Linked DNA regions of Homo sapiens: region 1 is linked to region 2. Evidence: fine-mapped expression QTL. A gene starts in region 2. The other region holds a variant in brackets. All regions are shown on one strand. Distances are between the middles of the regions. Region 1 holds the start of MIR3945HG (MIR3945 host gene). Region 2 holds the start of ACSL1 (acyl-CoA synthetase long chain family member 1).

Region 1 (11,610 bases), 31 kb before region 2:
TGCTAGTAATTATAAAGTGAAAGAAGGAGATGCAAACTGGATACACTGGAAACAGCCCAAACGCTTACCAGCAGCAGATGGATGAGAAACAACACGTAGCATTGACATACATGCAATGGCATATTCTTTAGCCTTTATTTTTTATTTTATTTTTTTGAGATAGAGTGTCGCTCTTGTCGCCCAGGTTGGAGTGCAGTGGTGCAATCTTGGCTCACTGCAACCTCTGCTTCCTGGGTTCAAGAGATTCTCCCTGACTCAGCCTCCCAAGTAGCTGGGACTACAGGCATGCGCCACCATGCCTGGCTAATTTTTGTATTATTAGCATAGATGGGGTTTCGCCACGTTGGCCAGACTGGTCTCGATCTCCTGACCTCAGATGATCCACCCACCTCAGATGATCCACGCACAAACATGCGTAGAATGTTTGTGGTCCTTTTAATTTTCCCATAAACTTTAGAGTCACCTGGTCAACTCCCAAAGTGCTGGGATTACAGGCATGAGCCACCACGTCCAGCCATTTTTTAGCCTTTAAAAGGAATTAAATGGCACTATATGTGACAACATGAGTAAACCTTGGGAACATTATCTAACTGAAATAGGCCAGACACAAAACGACAAATCCTCTATGATTCCACTTATAGGAGTTACCTAGAATAGGCGAATTATTAGAGACAGCAAGTAGAATAGAGGTTATCAGGGGCTGAGGGGAAGGACCAATGGAGAATTATTCTCTGGTGGGTACAGAGTTTCGGTTTCTTTTTCCAGAAAAAGTTCTGGAACTGGATGTGGTAATGGTTGAACCACATTGTGAAGAAACACTGCCACTGAATTTACACTTGAAAGTGGCTAAAATGGTAACTTTTATGTTAGTATATTTTACCACAATAGAAAATGCGTAGAAAAAAACCGTGTGAGTGATTTTTTTAAAAACACATGCTTTGAGATATAGGACAATGTGTAATGAGATATTAAGATGTAATCTCAGAGTATTCATTGATTCATTGATTCATTGAAAAAAGATAATTCTATTGAGCCCCTACTTGTGCCAGTTACTCTTCTGGTTCTGGGGACAGAGCTTGGTCAACAAGACAAACAGCCCCTTGCTCTAGTGGAGGGTGTAACGCACACTGGGGTTATAAGAAGATTCTTTCTTTTTTGCCCCTTTATATATTTTCCAAATCTTTCCAATGGGCATTGTATTTTTATGTATGGGGAAAATATAAATGGAAGAAGGGAGGCAATTATGAAATCAATGTTGGCCTGAGATGATTGTTAATTTTCCTCTTCCTCCTGGGCTTATGCCGTGAGCACACACCTCATCAATACAGAGAGGACCAGGTCCGATGATGATGAGGGAGGGATGCAGGAGGATCGGAACTTACGGAGCAAGAGAGTGGCGCCTGCTCAGTCCGCCATCCTGCTGTCTCCCGACTATGCTTTGGGCTTTCTGGCTTCCAGAGGCATCCGGACTCTAGTGATCTGTCAGTCCCCCTCACTCCACCCAGTGGGTGTTTACATCGGTGTTCAAAAGATCCAGAGCTTCTCTTTTTTTGGTGCTAGGATTTTTATTCTTTTAACAATAGTCCTGCAATAGCTCTTGGATAATTGTCTTGACCCCTCCTCTGCTTATACCAGGCCATAACCCTCCTAGAGATTCGAAAAGCTGTCTGAAAATATCAGGCAGAGGTTAATAAATGAAAGGGCTGGGCACCTTTCCTCCAAGAAATCGTTGCTAATTTGGGGCTCCTCTTGCAACATAGCAAAACCGAGAATTTCAGGGCTTTGCAATGCAAAAAGTCCCCAGTGGCCTCATTTCTACATTTCCTCTCCATACCCAACTAATTGACCCTGAGTTTTTGTTCATTCTTGTCTGATCTTGGCTGATATTAGGAGAGGCAGTCTAACCCAGATGAATGAAACTCTGCTTCCTTGATCATGGCTGCAAAGGGACACCGCCCCACGCCCCACCTCCTCTGTGCGGAGATAGGAGGAATCCCTCAGACCCCACAGCTCTCTCTCATCTCTGGCAGCCTGCGCCCCAGGAGTATGAGATGAAAGAGATCCACACGATGGTCCCTGGCATCTTTGGCTACTGTTATTCTTCTATATCCCTTGGCCTAGGGATCTATTTTAGGCAGTAACTTCCACTCCCTCTCTGTCAGAAACCTCTCTCATCATTGAGCTAGATTTTGGAAGTGTAGGAACATCTGGTTTTTGGACTGTGAGTCCCCTCAAGGCTGATAGGATGTTTAATTTTAGCTAATGAATGGATGTTTAATTTATGAGTATATGATGAATAAATAAAACCAGCTCTGATGGTTTCATTTTAATCTCATTCCAAGACAAATCTTACTTTCTATATTTTCCCCCACAAAAACGGATTTTTCTTCTCCATTTCAATTCTTTTCATCTCCCTCTCCCCAAAATCTCCAATTATCAGCTCTTCCATGGAAAATTTCTTCTCTACTCTCTGTTCTGACTTGTTCATGATCTAGTAGTTTTCTCTAAGGAAGGCTATGTAGTTTGGAGGTTATAAAGCTCAGGCTTCCTGAGTTCAAGTCCCAATTCCACCATTTGATGGTTGTAACCTCTGTGCGTCTCAGTGTCCCCATTTGTAAACTGGTGCTAGTCATAGACACCAGGTTGTGGGGTTACCGAAGGAGGGGTAATGAAGGTAAAAAAAGAGCATCTATCATAGAACCTGGCAACTGATGAAAGATTCAATAATGTTGACTGTTAGTAACATTTCAGTAACATTTTACTTAAATAGATAGAGGTTATGATATTATCTAGGTAGGTAGCCCTTTCTTAATGGCCTCAGTCTAACCCAACACTTTATCATATGGGGAGAAAATGTATAATGGAACTGTGAGGAAAAATCTGGAAGAATGGGTTGCTGGTGCCAGAGAGGAGGTGACTGGAAAGTGTAACAGCCTCTCTTGCCCTGCCCTGAAGCCACTTCCACGTGCCTCAGAGCCTTTGAGCCTCCAGCAACTCTGCCATCTGCTCCAGGTGTGAACTTTGCACACAGTGAGCTCACTGAGGTCTGGCCTACTGATCAGCTGTCTTATTCCCCCCTTTCAAAAAAAGGAGCTGCACCGTCATGAGTACAAACAACTTGCCTGGGTCTACAACCCCAAGGTGACAATGTGGAGTTGTGATCCCAGGTCTTCAGAGGACCAGCTGGGACCTTTGGGACCCCAAGGTGACGATGTGGAGTTGTGATCCCAGGTCTTCAGAGGACCAGCTGGGACCTTTGGGACCCCGAGGTGACGATGTGGAGTTGTGATCCCAGGTCTTCAGAGGACCAGCTGGGACCTTTGGGACCCCGAGGTGACGATGTGGAGTTGTGATCCCGGGTCTTCAGAGGACCAGCTGGGACCTTTGGGACCCCGAGGTGACGATGTGGAGTTGTGATCCCGGGTCTTCAGAGGACCAGCTGGGACCTTTGGGACCCCGAGGTGACGATGTGGAGTTGTGATCCCGGGTCTTCAGAGGACCAGCTGGGACCTTTGGGACCCCGAGGTGACGATGTGGAGTTGTGATCCCGGGTCTTCAGAGGATCAGCTGGGACCTTTGGGACCCCGAGGTGACGATGTGGAGTTGTGATCCCGGGTCTTCAGAGGACCAGCTGGGACCTTTGGGACCCCGAGGTGACGATGTGGAGTTGTGATCCCGGGTCTTCAGAGGACCAGCTGGGACCTTTGGGACCCCGAGGTGACGATGTGGAGTTGTGATCCCGGGTCTTCAGAGGACCAGCTGGGACCTTTGGGACCCCGAGGTGACGATGTGGAGTTGTGATCCCGGGTCTTCAGAGGACCAGCTGGGACCTTTGGGAGATGCAGAGCTGCTGCGGCGCTCTTCACATGCACTTGATCTGCTGTGTCCACTAAATCTACCCCACTTCTAACACCCCAGTCCTGGACTCCGTGGGTGCAAAACGTGAGTCTCTGCACCCCTCTTCACATCCCTGGGGGGCTTGAGAATAAGCCAGCAGCCCTGAGCTGGGCTCCTTGGCCTGGCCATGACTGCCAATGAGGGGCCTTGAGTCTGTGTCCTCAGCCCCCAGCCTGTCCCCATTTTGGGGACTTGAACAGACCCACAGTGTCAGTTCCTCCCATAAAAAGATTTCAGGGGACAGCAGCACTTCCTCTTGGCCCCCAGGCACTTGAAGGCCGCCTGCACCCCCCATTCCTAGGCCTTGCCAGCCTGAGGGCAAGCTCCTTACATGACCTGCAGCTTCAGAAACTAGGCCCTCCTCCTTACTTCCCATCACCCATTTTGTCAAAGAACCTAGAATATTTTGTTATCCGAGAAGCCTGGCTTTCGACAAACCGTAGGATTGCTAGTATCTCTTTATGGAGTGGACTTGAACTGTTTATTGCAACTGTGACATGTGGCAAATCATTTTACTGTTCTGAGGCTTTACTTCCTTCTAGTTAGAATGAGCATTAGGCCGGGCATGGTGGCTCACGCTTGTAATCCCAGCACTTTGGGAGGCCAAGGCAGGTGAATCACGAGGTCAGGAGTTCAAGACCAGACTGGCCAAGATGGTGAAACCCCGTCTCTACTAAAAATTCAAAAATTAGCTGGATGTGGTGGCGGGCACCTGTAATCCCAGCTACTCGGGAGGCTGAGGCAGAGAATTGCTTGAACCCGGGAGGCAGAGGTTGCAGTGAGACAAGATCGTGCCACTGCACTCCAGCCTGGGTGACAGAGCAAGACTCCATCTCAAAAAAAAAAGAAAAAAAAAAGAGCATTAAATATATGACATCTTTAAAACTGTGTGGATTTAGAACTGAGGTATCTTCTTTGTTACCTGAGGAGGGAAACATGCTTATGGGGCTAATGTCATTTTAATTTTGGGGTAGGTCTGTCTGTCTTCTGTGGGGTGGGGGAGAGTGAAAATTTTCTCTGCTGTAGGTGAAGACCTCTAGGCTTTATTTTCAACTCATATGCCTCATGCTATTGTTCGAGAATCATCTTTTCTATTCATATAAGCTATATCATACTGATCTTTTTTTTAACCTTATTTATTATTTTTTATTTTTGAGATGGAGTCTCCCCCTGTCACCCAGGCTGGAGTATAGTGGTGCAATCTCAGTTCACTGCAACCTCTGCCTCCAGGGTTCAAGTGATTCCCCTGCCTCAGCCTCCAGAGTAGCTGGGATTACAGGCGCGCACCACCACACCTGGATAATTTTTGTATTTTTAGTAGAGACGGGGTTTCACCATGTTGTCCAGGCTGGTCTCGAACTCGTGACCTCGGGTGATCCGCCCGACTCAGCCTCCCAAAGTGCTGGGATTACAGACATGAGCCACTGCACTCAGCCCCCCTTTTTTTTTTTAACTTTAAAATCCACTTGTGACACTTTTGTAAAATACCATCAACCTTGTGTATTAAGCTACTGTTGTGACAGCCATGATAATTTCCCTCTGAAAATGGTTTGGAGACATGAAATAATAAAAATAACCTTTAAAATGCATTATCACTCTGATTCTATTAGGAAAAACGGAAGTCACTGGATTTAAACTATGTCAATGCCCTGTACTTTCTGTCTGTCAGTAGGTGCTGTAACTGTTGGCTAAATGATTATTTTTCATGCTTCCTTTCTCATTTCTGCTTTTTTAGATATTTAAAATGTCCTTGTTTCTTGGTGAGCAGAATTATTTCCTACCTCATGACCATGAGTCATGACCTTATACTCTTCTTTCAGTACAGGAGAAAGCTTCATTAATTTACTAATGCATTCATTCCACAAGTAAACTTCTGCAATCCTCGTTTATTCATATACTTTGACAAAAACAAAGAGACCCACAAGCTTTTTGAGTCTTCACAACCCAAAACATGTATTTGAAACTGAAAATTCAATCATTCCATGTTTATAGGCATATTGCTTGATAGAAACATATAAATCATTACCTGAATTTTTTTTTTTTTTTTTTTTTTT[TG/G]AGACGGAGTCTCACTCTGTCACCCAGGCTGGAGTGCAGTGGTGCAGTCTCAGCTCACTACAACCTCTGCCTCCCGGGTTCAAGCTATTCTCCTGCCTCAGTCTCCTGAGTAGCTGGGATTACAGGCGCCCACCACCACACCCGGCTAATTTTTTTTTTTTAATTTTTAATCGAGACGGAGTTTTACCATGTTGGCCACGCTGGTCTCGAACTCCTGACCTCTGGTGATCCACCCGCCTTGGCCTCCCAAAGTGCTGGGATTACAGGCATGAGCCACCGCGCCCAGCCTGGATTTTTTTTAATCCAACCCAGTTCCATATTTTCCTCTAGAGAGACTGACTCACCAAGCCTATCTCCTTTTCCTGGAAACACAATCAAATTAACTTTCCAGTCACCGCTGTGTCTAGGTGTGGCCATATGAGTAGTTCTCACCAGTGGAATGTAGTGAAAACGAGATGCTGTCTCTTAGGGACTAAGGAAGCTATCTTTCCTCTTCCGACATTTGCTGACTGGTCGATGCTAGATGATCTTGAGACCCTGTGCTGAGGACTGGAGAACTACAGGAAAGGAGCAGTATCTCTGAATTATCGTGTGGAAGGTCACTTGTCTAGCCCCTGATGACTGTGAGGTAAGTCGTTAGGGATCTGGGGTTGTCTGATACAGCAGTTAGCAGGTCCTGACTGACATATCCCTCTTATTCTTTAAGTTGAACAAATTAGAGACTGGAGTGTTTTGGGTAGCCTTGCTATATGGCATGGTCGAAGACGGTGCTTCGCAGGTGATTTACAACCCTCCTACCATTTACTCTGTCTTCATTTCAAGCAGTATAACCTATAATTTCCTAATCTTCAGCAGAATAGGAAAAGGGGCTCAAAGCCACAAACACACACGCTTCCTTTCAATGTACCTTTGTTGCTCAGCCACAGTGGCGAGTTCACGCGCCTGGCAAGACCTCTCCCTATTTGGGCATTTTGTGAATACAGAAGAATGGGCGCCCTGGTGTGACCCAACATCAGAATCCAAAACATGGCATCTTTACCTAGCCCTTTTCGCTTCTTTTAGATCATTCAATAAACATAATCTGTTTTCTTTCAAAATAACATGGTTATCTAATTCCCTTCATTAGCAGCTAGCAAAAGAGGCCCTGGGCTTCCCGTGAGCTAATTCACTGGGTCCCTGAGGTCGTTGCGGGCTTTCCCTCTCACTCTTGCAACAGACACAATCTCACTTCTTTAATGTAAAGTATGGTTTTTCTGTCGAAATGTGCTTCCTGTTTTCTTTATCGTAACTTACAGGCATGATTGCCTGGGTCTTCTCTCATTATTCCCAGTCCACTGCCTCTTCATATTTAGTGGTACTTCTGTCTTACTGGTCCCTGGAAATTTATCTCAGATCATTTCCTTTTGGGTCTATCTCTTCTTTAAGAGAAATAATTTTAAAGTCAAAGCTCCATAATACAGAGATCTGTTCTCTTTCCCACCATCTGTTTTCTGAACCTCCCCTCCTGGTTCAAGCCTCTGTAGGATAATTTGAACACAAACCATTGACTGCCAACTGAAATCGAACAAGATAATGTCCAATTTGCCCTTTTTTCTCTCTGATTTGTCCCAATGTTTACATTTCTCCATCAATCAATGAACAAATCACTTTGGTACAGTGTGCCAGTAGCTTTGAGAGGAGCACAGAAGCAATACAAGCAAGCTCACCAGTAACTTATGAGGCTCGCTTACCCAAAGCCATTCAAGAATAAGACAGTAGATAACACCAGCCACCTGGTGTATATAGAAAGTGCATTCAGAGGGCCGGGCACGGTGGCTCACGCCTGTAATCCCAGCACTTTGGGAGGCCGAGGCGGGCAGATCACGAGGTCAGGAGATCGAGACCATCCTGGCTAACACGGTGAAACCCCGTCTCTACTAAAAATGCAAAAAATTAGCTGGGCGTGGTGGTGGGCGCCTGTAGTCCCAGCTACTCGGGAGGCTGAGGCAGGAGAATGGCATGAACCCGGGAGGCGGAGCTTGCAGTGAGCCGAGATCGCGCCACTGCACTCCAGGCTGGGCGACAGAGCGAGACTCTGTCTCAAAAAAAAAAAAAAGAAAAAAGAAAGTGCATTCAGAATTGGGGAGGGGAGAGATCAATGTGTGTTAGAGCCAAGGAAACATTTAGTAAAGATGGAATTTAGCCCTTAAGGACTGTCAGGCCAGAGCAATAGGAAGTACAAACATTTCATATGTAGAGAATAACACGAACAAGGCACAAGAGCAGAAATATGAGTAACAGCCTCAGTGGGTCCTATTCGTTATGCACCTATCATGTCCCTTGCACTATGCCGGGCCCTTTGCACTCATTATATACGATGCTCACAGCAATCCTGAGATTGTGAGGCGGGTATTTTACAAATACAAGAAGTCAGTTTTAGAGAAGTACTAAATGGCAGACTCAGGATTCATGTCTGCACTTCATTCACTGCGTAGGAAGGTGAGGGTGGTTAAGGAGGTGCCACTCTGGGAGCAGAAGGCAGTCACTGGAGCAGATCAGTGGAGCTACGTTACGGAGATCCGGGATGGTCCGTGAGGATGCTGGGCCTCACCTGGTAAGCAACAGGGACTGCTGTAGAAGCTTTAGCACAGAAATAGGATGACAAACTTTAGTCAGACAAAATCTGAGTTCAAGGCCGTGTTCTGTGTTAGCTGTGTGACTGGGAACCACCGTTAAACCTGCTGAGATTGTTTCCTCCTCTATAAAATGTGTTCAACAGCAATATCAATGTATAACATTGAAAGGCTTAAATGAGATTTTACTAAAGCACCTGAGATATAGTTAGCATTTACTATATGATAGAGGTTGTTGCTGTTACTACTGCTACTACCACCACCACTGCTACCACAACAGCACTTAAGGAAGGATGATAATCTGGAGAAAAACAGCTAACAGATATTTCGTGAAGACATGAAATGAGATGGCATAGATAGATAGATAGATAGATAGATAGATAGATAGAGTTATATGCCATTTGGTTATATATACATAATCAAAACTTGACTCTGGGAGTATAGATGAATAAAGGTGAATTAGAATCTAGTATAAAGAGAGAAGATCGGAGAATGAGGATTGACACATCTGGGGCACCCACAGTTGGGGAGCGGGACACGGGAGAGAGTCAGTGACAGACACAAGGAAAATGCAGAGGAAGAGGTAAGATGGTCACGTAGACCACAGCAGTCAGGTAACAGAAGAGGTTCCTCAAAAGGCTAGGGAGGTCTACTGTGCCCAGGGCTGCTGTGGGGAGAAAAGATTGAGGACTAGGAAAAGGCTTGTGCAGTTGGGGCAGTGACAACATGGAACACAGACTGGGAGGAACCAGGTGGGAATAAAAGACACTGGCCACAGCCACAGGCACTGCTCATTCATCTGAGGTGTAAGTATAGAGAGAGAACTCGGCTGTGGCTTGGAAGTAACAGCAAGACAAAGAAGGAGGTTATTTTTAGTTCTTGGAGAGGCCAATACCGCTGGTAATCATGAGCGAGCTTCAGTTCATCTCTACCCCTTACTATGGTGCAACTCCTCATGGACTGGTTCCTGAGCCTGCACCCTCTTAGGGTGCAGGTTAGTCCTGCACTTAGTCTGGCTTCTGTTAACTTGTTTTCTCTTTCAGGTCTCACTGTTGCTAACCCCACTCATCAACTTGATCTGTTTGCCCCCAATCCCACCATTTTGCATGACATTATGGATCCTCTGATCTTTAACAAATCCATCCAAGATTGTCTGTTTCTTCTTCTAAGGTGTCACCAGGAATGAAGATTCTTTCACCTAATTTATTTTTTTCTGGTTTCACACGTGTCTGAAAAAATAATAGCAATTATTATTATTATCATTGTAGGATTCATTTCACTCCTCTCAAACACATTCAAAAAGTCTCTTCATCTCTTCCATCATGGTGATGCTCAACTGTTACCCAACTATCCAACTGTATCTTGGAGTTTTGTAATTCCATCATGAGTTGTACTCAACTGTTATCCAACATATCTTGGAGCATGCACCAGGATGCTCCCTGACACAGCTCACTTTGCAAGTAATTCTTAGACACACACTTTCTCCACCAGGCCTGTCTAGTTGAAGTTCTCTATATCCCTGCCCCCCTCCCCACCCTGGTTAAGCATAGGACTTCCATGGTTACATCCCATTTATTCCTTTCCCAAACATGCTTAATGCATTTCATCTCCAGTTACAAACATCGTCTGCTAATGAACAATGTAGATAGTTACCATGTTGTATAAATAGTTACTTATTTCCCTTCGTTGTTGGTTTTATCCAATAAACTAGCCCGATCAGCTTCATTTTATATCACCTTATCTCATACAGATGAGAAACTGTATGTATTTCAGCCTGTCTAAACTGGAGGTAACGCTAGACTGCAGTATCCCTGCACAGTGTCGTATTAGAAATGGCACCCTATAAATTTTTTATGAGTTAATAATGATTGTGATCCCATTCCTATTTTCTACAAGTTCTTCTGTTATGGTGGCAATTAAATAGCCTCACCTTCCTTTCACTTTCTGCAAACCTGCTGCAAGTCATCATTAACTTTCTTAATTGGTAGCGGCTCTGAATTCCAGTCTTTCAGAGTTCCCGTAAACAGCATCTTTCTTAATACTTATGTCATAATGTTTTTCTCCTTTCCTTGCATTTCATTCTGCCTTTGGGCAGGAACAGCATCATTTCCTGCTCTTCTGGGGTTTCAACACTGACTGCAAAGCACCCTTGCTCATCTCACTGGGAGATTCTGCAGCCAAGCAGAGATTTGCATAAAGCCCATCCACCCTTCACCAGCACAGGATACGCAGACTTAACTGCAGGGACTCTTGGTGACTAGTCTCTGTGGTGCACACTCTCCACCCTACCACCAAAAAGGTCCCCAGTACCCTAAAAGGAACTATGTACTCAAATATCACCTCAAATAAGATGAGGTCTTTCTGAGAGAAAAGAGATGTTGATGCACGTGACGGGGAGGGCATAGGAGAGGGTTGATATAAAATGCAATTACAGCCTCTTATGCTTTCCAAAGTGGGGGATGATTCAATGATTCCTGACTGGTCCACAGCCATATATCAATTGAGGTTATAATACTAATTTGAATTGCAAATCTCTGAAAAGAAGGGGACAAGCTAAGGAGATAAAATTTAACAGGGTGAGTCCTGAATTTAGATTTAAACAAACTCCACAAGTATAAGAAGGCAGAGGCTGGCAACAGTACTTGCTGTCATGTTTAGTCGGCCACTGGTCAGTCTGAGACAGCAGTGGGTGTGATCGTGTAGCAGCTATGGAAAGCTTATGCTGCATTTAATAATAATAGTCATACTTTAAAGCATGTTTCAGTTATGAATTCATTCTGACCAGAAAAGTAACTTGCACTAGCTTAACAGTCAAATAGCAAGAAGCATAGAGAAGTGGCCGCTTGCTGTGCTTCAGCAGCTCAACAGTGTCTCTATTCTCTTAGCCTCTTCCTCCTGCTTGCCACCTCTCAGTCACAAGACGGCTGCTGCGACTCAGGCTCATGTCCCAATTCAAGGCAGCAAGAAGGCCATGGAGCGGCACCTGCCAGGTATGTCCCTTTCCCAGGCATCCCCAGCAGATTTCTCACTGTCTGAAACTGCATCC
Region 2 (11,610 bases):
TTTTCCCTTCCCTACTGCCGGAGGCCCTAGAAAGCCCAAACTTTTAAAATTTGTAGTTTACTGTGATTTCTGTTCTAATTCTAAAGGAAACATTCACTTTTGTATCCAACTTTGTATTTGTAATTTTCTTATAGAGGTTCCCTAAACTGTGTAAGTTTAAGGCTCCAAACGTGGATCTACCCTTGGTTGACATCGAGTAGTTAGAAAAATGTGTCCAACTCAACAATTGAATACCTACTCTGTGTAAATGAAGAGGACGTGCAGGGGAGTAAGAAAGACTGGGATGGTTCATGAGGATTCACGGGACACACTGCCTCCTTCCAGTCCCTTACAGTTTCATGGGGGCATGGATGTATGCCTAATATAGTTGCAGTCCCAAAATGGATTGAACAAAAAGAACTCAGTTACTGATGCCAATCTTCCTTTAACCAGCCAATTACCGAGGTCTGTAATTAAAAGCTCATCGGCCATTATTAATTGATGTGGCTATACTTCAGATAGCCATGCTCAAAAGCAATAGGTGCAGAAGATTAATAATAATCACAGCTTTGTAGTTCCTAATCACAAGTGGGAACTTTTGAGACAAGGCCACTGTAAACCTGCTAATCAGCTTGACCCAGAAAGACTTCGATTCTTTTTTTCTTTTCTTTCTTTCTTTTTTTTTTTTGATGTGGTCTTGCTCTGTTGCCCATGCCAAAGTGCAATGGTGCAATCACGGTTCACTGCAGTCTCGACCTCCTGGGTTCAAGAGATCCTCCCACCTCAGCCTCCCATGTAGCTGGGACTATAGGCTACAGGTGCACACCACCATGCTGGGCTAAGTTTTGTATTTTTTGTAGAGACAGGATCTCGCCATGTTGCTCACACTGGTCTCAAACTCCTGGGCTGAAGTGATCCGCCGACCTTGGCCTCCCAACATGCTGGGATTACAGGCATGTGCCACTGCACCCGGCCCAGTTCTCTTTAGCTTCTCCAGGAGATTGATCAATCGGTGTTAGGCAGATGTCAATGTGGATTTAGCCAGAATTAGCCACAACATTTTAATCAGGCCAAAATGTAACAAGGGCAGGAGTGACCGAAAAAAGACTCAAATTTCCGCTAGGAAATTTGCACCACTACAATATCCAATTGGCTCTTATTCCCTTGGCTAGAGAGATGCTTGAAAAAAAAGACAGTAGAAAGGAGGGTTAAGACTGGTTTCTTAAAGAAGTAAGTACAAGGAAGTATAAGTTCATGCTGCCTGCTTCTAAAAGAATTCTATTCCTCATAACTACATAACATTATAATGCTACTGATTCATAAGGAGTTTAGATTAATTCTATTGGAGAGGACACCAGGATTATTAGTGTTTATTTTCATCTAGGATCTTTATTCTTTAATGCTGTTGGTCCCACAGACACATTTCAGTATACAAAAACACTGCAGTGTTAATAGCCAAAAGAAAAGCCATTATGATGTGAATAGTGGTCATTGTGATCACTGTGACACAATTTTTAAAAACTTTTTCTTAGAGACGGAGGGTCTCACTATGTTGCTCAGGCTGGTCTTGAATTCCCGGACTCAAGCAATCCTCCTGCATTTGCCTCCCAAAGTGCTGGGATTACAGGTGTGAGCCACCGCACCTGGCCCAATTTTTAAAAACAATCATGTCCTTCATTTAAAAAAAAAAAAAAAAAAAAGGCCGGGCGCGGTGGCTCACGCCTGTAATCCCAGCACTTTGGGAGGCCAAGGCGGGTGGATCACGAAGTCAGGAGATCGAGACCATCCTGGCTAACACAATGAAACCCCATCTCTACTAAAAATACAAAAAACTAGCCGGGTGTGGTGGTGGGTGCCTGTGGTCCCAGCTACTTGGGAGGCTGAGGCAGGAAAATGGCATGAACCCAGGAGGTAGAGATTGCAGTGAGCCGAGATCGCACCACTGCACCCCAGCCTGGGCAACAGAGTGAGACTCCGTCTCAAAAAAAGAGACTGGTTTCTTACCTAAGTCACAAACTCCCAACTATAGAGTCTGGAATCTTCATTTAATGAGAACGCCAAGGGCGTGGCTGTCAATCCTATGACACCTGTCTGAGGTAGGTATTATTCCTGATTTAAGGAGGATGCAATGAGGCTTGATGTGGATTCACCCACCCCAAAGCCTGTGTTCTTAACCACTATGCAATACTGCCTCCCATCAAAGTCTCTATCTCAAGTCCACAAGACAACCCCATACATTGTAAAACTTTTTGGAGTGATTAGATAAAAACTTTTTTGTTTTTTTTTAAGTGTGTGTGCTGAAAGAGACCTAAGAGATTATTTAGCCAAGCCCCCTTATAGCCTGAGGAGAAATCTAGGTTCTAAGGAATGAAGTTGCTTCCCAATGTCACCTAGAAGTTCCTGCCAGAAGGAGTGTGAACTCAGGTCTGATACTGGGTTGTGTGCCTTTCCCAGCCTTGAGTTGGAAATCACCTCATTAAGGGCTAGAGCCCAGGGAGAGGCACCCAGTTTAAAAGAAAAGTGTCTTGAGGAGAAGACGTAAGGTGAGACAGCCAGTGACGACCATCCACATGTTACGGGTTGAATTGTCACCCCCACATTCCCCAAGTTCATATGTTCAGGGGTTTGTTGTTGTTGTTGTTGTTGTTTTGAGACAGAGTCTTGCTCTGTCTCCCAGGCTGGAATGCAGTGGCGTGATCTTGGCTCATTGCAACCTCCACCTCCCTGGGTTCAAACAATTCTTCTGCCTCAGCCTCCCGAGTAGCTGGGACTACAGGTACGCACCACCATGCCCCGCTAATTTTTTTATTTTTAGTAGAGACAGGGTTTCACCATGTTGGCCAGGCTGGTCTTGAACTCCTGACCTCAGTTGATCTGCCTGCCTCGGCCTCCCAAAGTGCTGGGATTACAGGCATGAACCACCGTGCCTGGGCATTCAGGTATCTTAGAATGGGACCTTACTTGGACATTACCTCATGATTACAGAGGTCATCAAGTTAAAATGAGGCAATTCGGGTGGGCCCTAGTCCAGTATGACTGGTGTCCTTATAGAAAGAAGGGATTTGCACACACACACCACAGGGAAGATGGTGTGAGGAGACATAGGGAGAAGATGGGCATCTGCAAGTCAGAGTGGCCGGGCACACATGCTCTTTCATGGGCCTCGGAAGCAGCCAGCCCTCCCACGCCGTGATTTTGTACTTCTAGTCTCCAGAACCAGGACAGACCATACATTTCGGTTGTTGAAGCCACTTAGTGTGTGGTACTTCGTTCCAGCAGCCCTTGAAAACAATAGACCACAGAACTTGGGAGGTGCCTGCAGAGGTTCTGGGGCTGAGGGACCGGTTGGAGAAGAGGAAAAAGGAGAGGCAAAGATGACAAAATCACGGATGGGGAGGCGAGATCTGGACAGAAAAACCAGGGATTAGCCAAGCGGGAACCAGTGAAAACGAACGTGGAGTCCATTTTTTCTAGATCTGGAAGATGGAGATCTAAAAGGACTGAGCTGCTAGAGAGGTTGCTGGTGTGTGCGTTGTCCTCACCCCACTGCACCACTGCGCCCAGCACACTGTGGGAGACACCCAGGGAAAGTCCTTCAGTTATTTGTGGGAGTGAACTGCAGTGTGGCTGAGGCCTGGAGCGAACCACGGTCAGTTTCCCCTGCCTGCAGCCCAGGCATAGCCCTGCGTTGGTTGTGCCCACACTCTGGGGGCAGCCTGAGTGCCAAGTGTGGTACTGCTCTCACTAGCATTTAACCTCTGTGCCCCAGCTTCCTCTTCTGTGAAAGGACAGTAATGACAGTACCTACCTCACTGGGTTATGAAGATTAAATAGAATAATGTGTACGCAGTGTTTGTAGCAATGCCTGGCATCAAGCACTGGGTAAACAGTATCTATTATTATCAAAGGCCTTTACGACAACAATCATTCTTCAAACGGCCCTCCAGCGAACGCTGGGCGCAAACTCCACGGTAACGGGGACCAATGTTGTTAGAGGTTGAGGTTCCTGGTAGGTCCCAGGTGCTAAAAGGAAGAGCAGCCTTTGGGATGTGAGCCCGAAAACCATCGTGTTGGCTTCTGAAGCCCCAAGATGGGCATGGCAGGGACGCGGAAGCCCTCAGAACCGCGGAAGCCCTCAGAACCGCACAGCAGGTGGCCGCCGTGGTGCAGCGCGCAGTCGGCCCTCAGCTCCCCTGCACCGGCGCGAGCTGCGGGCGCTGCCCACGTCAGGCTCTGCAGACACCAGACAGAAAAGGTCTTCCGGCCAGGGAGCGTGGGGGAAACCCTGTGGGGCCGCGCCCGTCAGTGTCAAGGAAAAACGGAGAGGAAGGCCCTTGCCTCCAGGGCCCTCGCAGCAGAATTCTGCCCGGCCTGCCAGGAGGCCAGCGGGGCACGGGCTGAGGGTGCAGGATCCGGAGGGCGCCGCCCGCCCCTCGGGCATCGCGGGGCCCAGGGTCCGCGGGGCCTCTGAGCTGAGGCGGTCCAATGTACCCTTTGTCCTTCCTCAGATTCATTATGAAATCCGAGGCAGTCTGGGCGACTCCAGCGGCGTTCGCCCGCCGCAGCCTCTCGACCGCCGGCCACCCGCCAGCCACGCGCGCCCAGACAGGAGGGCGGCCGGGCGCTCGGCGGGGCGGGGCCTGCCGGGGGCGGGGCCTGCGGGCGGGGCGGGGCCGCGGGAGGGCGGGGCCGGCGCGGCGAGCGCACCAGCAGCATCCTGGCTCAGCCGCGGCGGTGGCGGGGGCGCAACCAGCGGGCCGAGGCGGCGGCGCCAGCGGCGCCTTAAATAGCATCCAGAGCCGGCGCGGGGCAGGGAGTGGGCTGCAGTGACAGCCGGCGGCGGAGCGGCCGGTCCACGGAGGAGGTGAGTGCGCCCGCCGTGCGGAGCCGCGCCTGCTCCCGCGGCGGTGCCCGGGCCCCGGCCGAGGCGCCGGCTGACGTTGCCCTTCAGGGCCGAGCCCGGAGCAGCGGCCGCCGCGGAGGCGCGTGAGCCACCCCAGGCTCGTGGGGCCGCGCCGCCTTTCCGGCCTCCTGCCCGCGGCCCCGCTTCCCTCGGCAGCCGGAGGCCTCCGGGGTGCCCGTGCTGCCGCAGCTTCCTGTGTCTGAGTCGCGGGCGGCGCGGGCGCGGGGCTGGTGCGCGGCCGGGGATGCGCGCGGGACCGACCCTTGTGTGTGCGGCGGCGGGGACCGGCCCGGCGAAGCAGCCGGAGGCCGCGCTTCGGCTGGGAGGAGGTGGCCCAGCTGGGCCGCTGACGTTGCCCTCGTCCGCGGCCCCCGCCTGCCCAGAGGCCGGGCTCGCGGGCGTTCGGACCGCGCGTGGGGCGAGACTGCACTCGCGCCCGCTGAGATGCCGGCCCCACGCAGCGCGGCGGCACGAGGCCCACAGGCAGCTCAGAGGCCGCTGCCAGAGGCAGACATTCTCTCGGTGACTCCAGAGGAGTGCCCGTGGCCCTTGCACTTGGCCGTGGAGTCATTGATCTAAGGAGTGCTGGCATTTTTTGAAATTGAGAAGCAAAGATGATGTCTGTCACCTGGCAGCGTAGACGGAGAGTGGCGGTAGATGACTTGAATGGACACGTGGATTCGAGTCTGGGGACAGGCGTTCCCCCAGTCGGTGCGTTGTGAGAGTGTGGAAACCCCTTCCCCACTCAGTCCAATTTCAAGGTTATGGAGCATAATTAAGAGTGACCATTCTAAAAGCGTTCTCTAGTGCCCTGGCTAAGACTTTTAAGCTTCTTGGTGCAGGAGTGTCTAAAGTCCCGCGACTCTCACTGCCCTGTCTTTTATTTTCTTGACCTTTGATTAGCGTTGAGAGAAACTGGTTAAATCTTGCAGTTTCTGCCACCCATTTCACAACTTAACCTGTGATTGTCCCAAAGAAAACAATTATTGGCTTCTTGCTAGCAAAAAAATCAAAGGCTTCCGGTTGATTGTTTCTTTCTTTTTTTTCTTTTTTCAAGTGGACGTGGAAGGTTAGGCTGGCTAAAACTTAAAGTTTGAGTTGTAGGTCTGTGCTGGGTAGGCTTGAGAAGATGGAGCTTTTTAAGGAACCATTGCTCGCCATCAGATTGGAGCCAGACAGTGCAGTGTGATATAGTGGAAAAGGACCAGGTCTTGGGAGACTTACTTTCTTGTTCTGACTCAACTCGGAAAACACCTCCCTAGTCTGAGGCCCCCCTCCTTATATTTGTGAACAAACTGCATTAGACTAAAATCTTTCACGAGTCCAAATTCTGCGACTAGAAAAATAAACTTGTTAGCCGCACACCTTATACCTCTCCCCTTTAAAACAGACATATTAAAGACTTCTGTTTTCTGAATTTACTGTAAACAGAATACTTAAAAAAAAATTACCCAGACAGGCGTGGTGGCTCACTGTAATCCCAGCACTTTGGGAGACCGAGGCGGGCAGATCATTTGAGGTCAGGAGTTCGAGACCAGCCTGACCAACATGGAGAAACCCTATCTCTACTAAAAATACAAATAATTAGCCAGGCGTGGTGGCATGCATCTCTAGTCCCAGCTACTCGAGAGGCTGAGCCAGGAGAATCGCTTGAACTCAGGAGGCAGAAGTTGTGATGAGCTGAGATCCCGCCACTGCACTCCAGACTGGGCAACAGAGCAGGACTCTGTAAAAAACAAAACAAAACAAAAAATTACCCTTCCCCACAATTATAAGCATTTTGGCATATTTCCTTCCTGTCTCTGTTGTTCCTATTTTGGCAGTATTTTTATTGTTATCGCAGGCAGCCTGACTGAAAAGAAATCTGGGCTTCTAAGTTTTTGGTATTTAGGAGGTAGATACAAGTGACCCATGCATGTAGGGTTAGGTATCTATTTATACCATGCAGGTAGAGTTTTCATAGCCACCTCTACTTTTGGGTGAAGTTTAGGCTAACTGAAAGTGTACCAGCATGCATGGTGTATGCAGAAAAATGAACGTAATTCAGATTATGTGATAGTTTTCTCTTGTTGCCATTATATATAACCCAGGGCTTACCACAAACTGAAATTTCTTATGCATTGACATTTAGCATTTGATGTAAAATGACTATCTCAGAGTTGCTGCCACAAACACTGGTAAAACTGTCCCTACTTTCTAGCATGCTTAATGTCTAGGTCTTGCTACATCTTTTTTGATGTAACTGTTTTGTGGAAAATGGTTGTGTGTTTGGGGAGGCTTTTGAGAAAAGATAAGGTTGTCTTGTCATTATAACTGGGTATTTCTCCTCTCTCCCTTCCAGTTTCACTTGTCTGGAAATAGCAAGACTATAGGAGTAGTAATTTCTAGATATTTATAGTCAGTAACCTTAGAGGAATGTTTAGTTTTTAAGATCAATTGAATTTATTGTGTAAGTTTGCCATTTAAAACAGGTGCCCATTTGTGTTTACTGTCTCTTGTAACCAAACTCTGTTCAATTAGAATCCATTAGTAATGTTTTGTGGAGAGTCTTGTTTGGATGATGCAGTGCATGAGGCTCCTGTACTACAAAATAGAAAAGAAGTTCCTCTAAGGCAGCTCAAAGCTGTTGATATCCTGAAGCCTTTTTAGGCCTCCCTCTCTGACAGGCGGTGATCTGACAGGAGGTAGATAAAGGTGCCGGAGTTTTTAGTGAAGGTTGGCAGTCCAACTTGGTAGTCAGACAAACACATGATGGTCAAAAGTGCCTTTGACACTGGGGCCTGGAGAAGAATTCTCAGTGGCCAGAGCTGATCTGAAGCTGCAGGCAGTTGAGTTTGAGTTTCAACATGTTGGTACTTCAAGGGGCTTCTGAAAAGTTTTAAAGGAGCACAAGCCCTGAAGGAGTAGCTGAACTTAGTGAACTGGAGAAGGCAGGGGCAGTTTTACCAGGGTTTGTGGCAGCGACTCTAAGATTGTCATTTTACATCAAATGCTGAATGTCAATGCATAAGAAATTTCAGTTTGTGGCAAGCCTTGGGTTGTATATAATGGCAAGAAGAGAAAACTATCACATAATCTGAGTTATGTTCATTTTCTACATCATGACATTTTCACTTTCTTTTTTTTTTCTTTTTTCCCAGATAAGGTCTCACTCTGTCGCCCAGGTTGGAGTACAGGCATGATCATGGCTCGTTGCAGCCTCTCCACCTCCCTGGGCTCAGTTGATCCTCCCACTTCAGCCTCTCCAGTAGCTTAGACTACAGGCGCACATCACTATGCCCAGCTAATTTTTGTATTTTTTTCGTAGTGAAGCGGTTTTGCCATATTGCCCAGTTGTCTCGAACTCCTGGGCTCAAGCGATTTGCCCTCCTTGGCCTCCCCAAAGTGCTAGGATTACAGGCGTGAGCCACTGCACCCAGCCCACTTTCATGTTCTTGACTGTGTTAGAAACAACACAGTATTGATTCACTTATGACCTTTGAGGAATCAAGAGGGGCGGGTGAAATATTGGAGACTCCTTGAAGTGTGGCTGGCTTGGAGGGTGTCACCCTTGGACAAAAACTTAAGTGGAGGTGAGTAAGGGCCCTGCTCCCCTGTGCTGCCTGCCTTAGAAGGATGTGATCATCTGGAGGCAAATAGCTTGTTGCTTGAGGCCAGGAGTTCAAGACCAGCCTGGGCAACAGAGCAAGACCCCATCTCTAGAAAAAAAAAAGTAAAAACAATAAAATAAAATCTCAAAACTGGTGGTTCCATATAGGTGCCTGGGCTGATTCTCTTTATGAATTATTTGCTGGTCTTCAAGTTTAAATAAAATTCTGAAAGCTGTCTAATATCTAAAAACCACTTGCCACAGAAAAGCTGTATTTGTTTTTCATATTTTAAGAGTCATACATACTTACTGGAGAAAATTTGGGAAATAGGAAAAATGAAGCTCTTCCAGAGATTAAATACTATTAACATTTTGTTATATTTCCTTCCAGTCTTTTTTCCCTATACAATAAACAAATTTTAAGCATACATTGTTAATTAAAGATTACAATTTTGACAATTTAACTTTATCACCTAAGTTATATTGTGGGCTTTTTTACACGTTGTTACATATTCTTCAAAAAATAAGTTCTGAAGATGACTGCATTATTTGCTGTATGGGCCATAATTTAGTTACTTCTCCCCATTTGTTGGATATTTTTCAGAACAGTTTACCAACCTTTGTTATATGTTTAAATACGTCTTTAAAAAATAAAAAATGTTCTGCTTTAAAACTCTTGAAATTAACAATAATTTGAAAAGTGTTTTTACTAATGAATAGGTTTAATGGACTTTTGGGTTCATGTATTCTAGTCAAAAGCAGTTGAAATAGGGATTTCATGGTTTGGAAAGAGAAATGGAAAGAAGTTAGGGCATCAGAGGAGGAAACGGGGCCTGCCTGTAGACCATTTCCTCATTCTGGAGGGGACTTCTGATAAATGTAGGCTCTATCCATTAGCACAGCTTTGGCTGCTATAGAAATGGGCACTTTCCCCTTAGGTTTGTTGTGGGAGAAATGTCCATATAAGAAGGACTGAAACACTCTGAATACTATTTATTCCTTTATTAAGCAGAGTCATGAGAAAGTGCTTCCGGAGCTAGTTTCTCCTTCAGGGTCCAGGTGTCTGCCACAAAGCAGGGCTGTGGTAGCTGACCGAGGTGGTAGCCACAGCCTGGACACGGCCAGGCTTAGGAACAGAGCAGTGATGAGAGCAGCAGACAGAGCCAGGTGCTGCTAAGCTTCTGATGGGTTAACTCATTAGTACCTTCAGCAACCCTGTAAGGTAGGTCCTGCTGCTATCCTTACTGTACACAAGATAAAGGAACAGGTGCAAAGATTAAGTTCCCCATACCAGAATTTGAACCTAGGCAGTCTGGCTTCAGGGTCTGTGCTCCTAATTGCTGGGCTCTACTGCCCCTCCAGAGCTAGAAGTTCTCACTCCAGGAGGGCCTAGAAAGTTCCAGGTTAGGCCAGGTGCGGTGGCTCACGCCTGTAATCCCAGCATTTTGGGAGGCCGAGGCGGGTGGATCACCCTGACCAATATGGTGAAACCCCGTCTCTACTAAAAATACAAAAATTAACTGGGCGTGGTGGTACGTGCCTGTAGTCTCAGCTGCTCGGGAGGTTGAGGCAGGAGAATCGCATGAACCCAGGAGGCGGAGGCTGCAGTGAGCCAAGATTGCGCCACAGCACTCCAGCCTGGGTGACAGAGTGAGACTCTGTCTCCAAAAGAAAAAAAAAGAAAGTTCCAGGTTATACAGCTGGCAGTAAGACAGGAAGGACAGAGCTGGGTCTCCTTCGGTGTCACTGCTCCTTGATTTTACCCCCATCTCATTTACACTCTGCCTTGAATTATCTCTTTATACCACTAGAGTGCTGAAAGAGACCACAAATTTTGATTCAGCGTGGCTCAGGGAGTGATAAGATCACTTGCTATGTAGCTGTGACTTTCTAGAGAATTAAAAAATAAAAGGCTTTGCCTGCCCTGGACATTGGTCTTGTAAGGCTGGAGAACAATTGAGACGCATGACTGGCCGGGTGCAGTGGCTCACGCCTGTAATCCCAGCACTTTGGGAGGCCGAGGTGGGCGGATCATGAGGTCAGGAGATCAAGACCATCCTGGCTAACACGGTGCAACCCTGTCTCTACTAAAAATACAAAAAATTAGCCAGGCATGGTGGTGGGCACCTGTAGTCCCAGCTACTTGGGAGTCTGCAGGGATCGGAGGGGGGTGACTTGGCCAAGGTAACACAACCTGCCTGACCCTCTGGCCATGCACACGTGTGGAGTTTGTTCCCGGGCCCTGTGCCTGTTCAAAGAATGGCTGGACGTCGGTATTGCCCTTGGTTTCTGCCCTGAAGTCCAGTCAGTCAGCAGTTCTGCTTATTCTGACCCTCTCTGTGCAGTATTACCCAACACACATGCATTTCCTCCTTGCCTTCTCAGTATTGCCATCGTGAACCAGAATTGTCACCTCCAATTTAAACAGTGAAGGCCTTTGTTAGGAAGAGGGGCAGGGTGCAGAGGGGGATGGTTGCTTTTTCTAAATCACAGCTCTGATCAAATCCCTCCTAAGCAGAAGCCTTCCAGGCTCCCCTCCATAAGGCTCCAGGTGTTTACTTACCTTGCCTGTCAGGGGCTTCTGCAGCTTGCTTCCTACCTGCTATCTCCACTCCTCTCCAAACCACCATATCCTGAGGCTTCTAGAAAGCAAACTCTGGCGGCATGGGGTTAATGGGTCTGTGTACCCAAGACACTGTACCTGGGTGCTGTCATCTGCCTGACTGACCTTCCTGTGTCCTGGTCCGATGGTGTCTTTGATCCTATAGCTAAGATCAAGACACTGAAAATCTCTAGACTCAAGTCTGTGCTTTTGCTGGGATAAAGTTTGTGTTGAGTACATCTAGGCTGGGTGTGGTAGCTCACGCCTGTAATCTCAGCACTTTGGGAGGCCAAGGCAGGTGGATCATCTGAGGTCAGGAGTTCGAGACCAGCCTGGACAACATGGTGAAACCCTGTCTCTGCTAAAAATACAAAAATTAGCCAGGTGTGGTGGCAGGCGCCTGTAATCCCAGCTACTCAGGAGGCTGAGGCAGGAGAATCCCTTGAGCCTGGGAGGCAGAGGTTGCAGTGAGCCAAGATCGTGCCATTGCACTCCAGCCTGGGGTATAGAGTGAGGCTCTGTCTCCAAAAAAAAAAA

The links. PIP is the estimated chance that this variant, and not a neighbour inherited with it, causes the effect.
Region 1: its variant is fine-mapped to the expression of ACSL1 in whole blood (INTERVAL, PIP above 0.99).

What each region holds. Positions count from the first base shown.
Region 1 is chr4:184,850,439-184,862,048 of GRCh38, reverse strand. MIR3945HG (MIR3945 host gene) reads left to right here and starts at 6,397. Exons shown (of 3, transcript NR_132989.1): 1 at 6,397-6,580; 2 at 11,450-11,554. MIR3945 (microRNA 3945) reads left to right here and starts at 10,939; the gene lies at 10,939-11,036. RefSeq lists an enhancer at 11,420-11,489. The variant TG/G (reference allele first, on the strand shown) is at 5,952.
Region 2 is chr4:184,819,149-184,830,758 of GRCh38, reverse strand. It overlaps ACSL1 (acyl-CoA synthetase long chain family member 1), which reads left to right and starts at 4,791. Exons shown (of 21, transcript NM_001995.5): 1 at 4,791-4,843. LOC105377587 (a long non-coding RNA gene) reads right to left here and starts at 4,588. Exons shown (of 3, transcript XR_939564.4): 1 at 3,788-4,588. RefSeq lists enhancers at 3,613-3,892, 4,063-4,112, 3,719-4,222, 5,473-5,542 and a silencer at 4,343-5,302.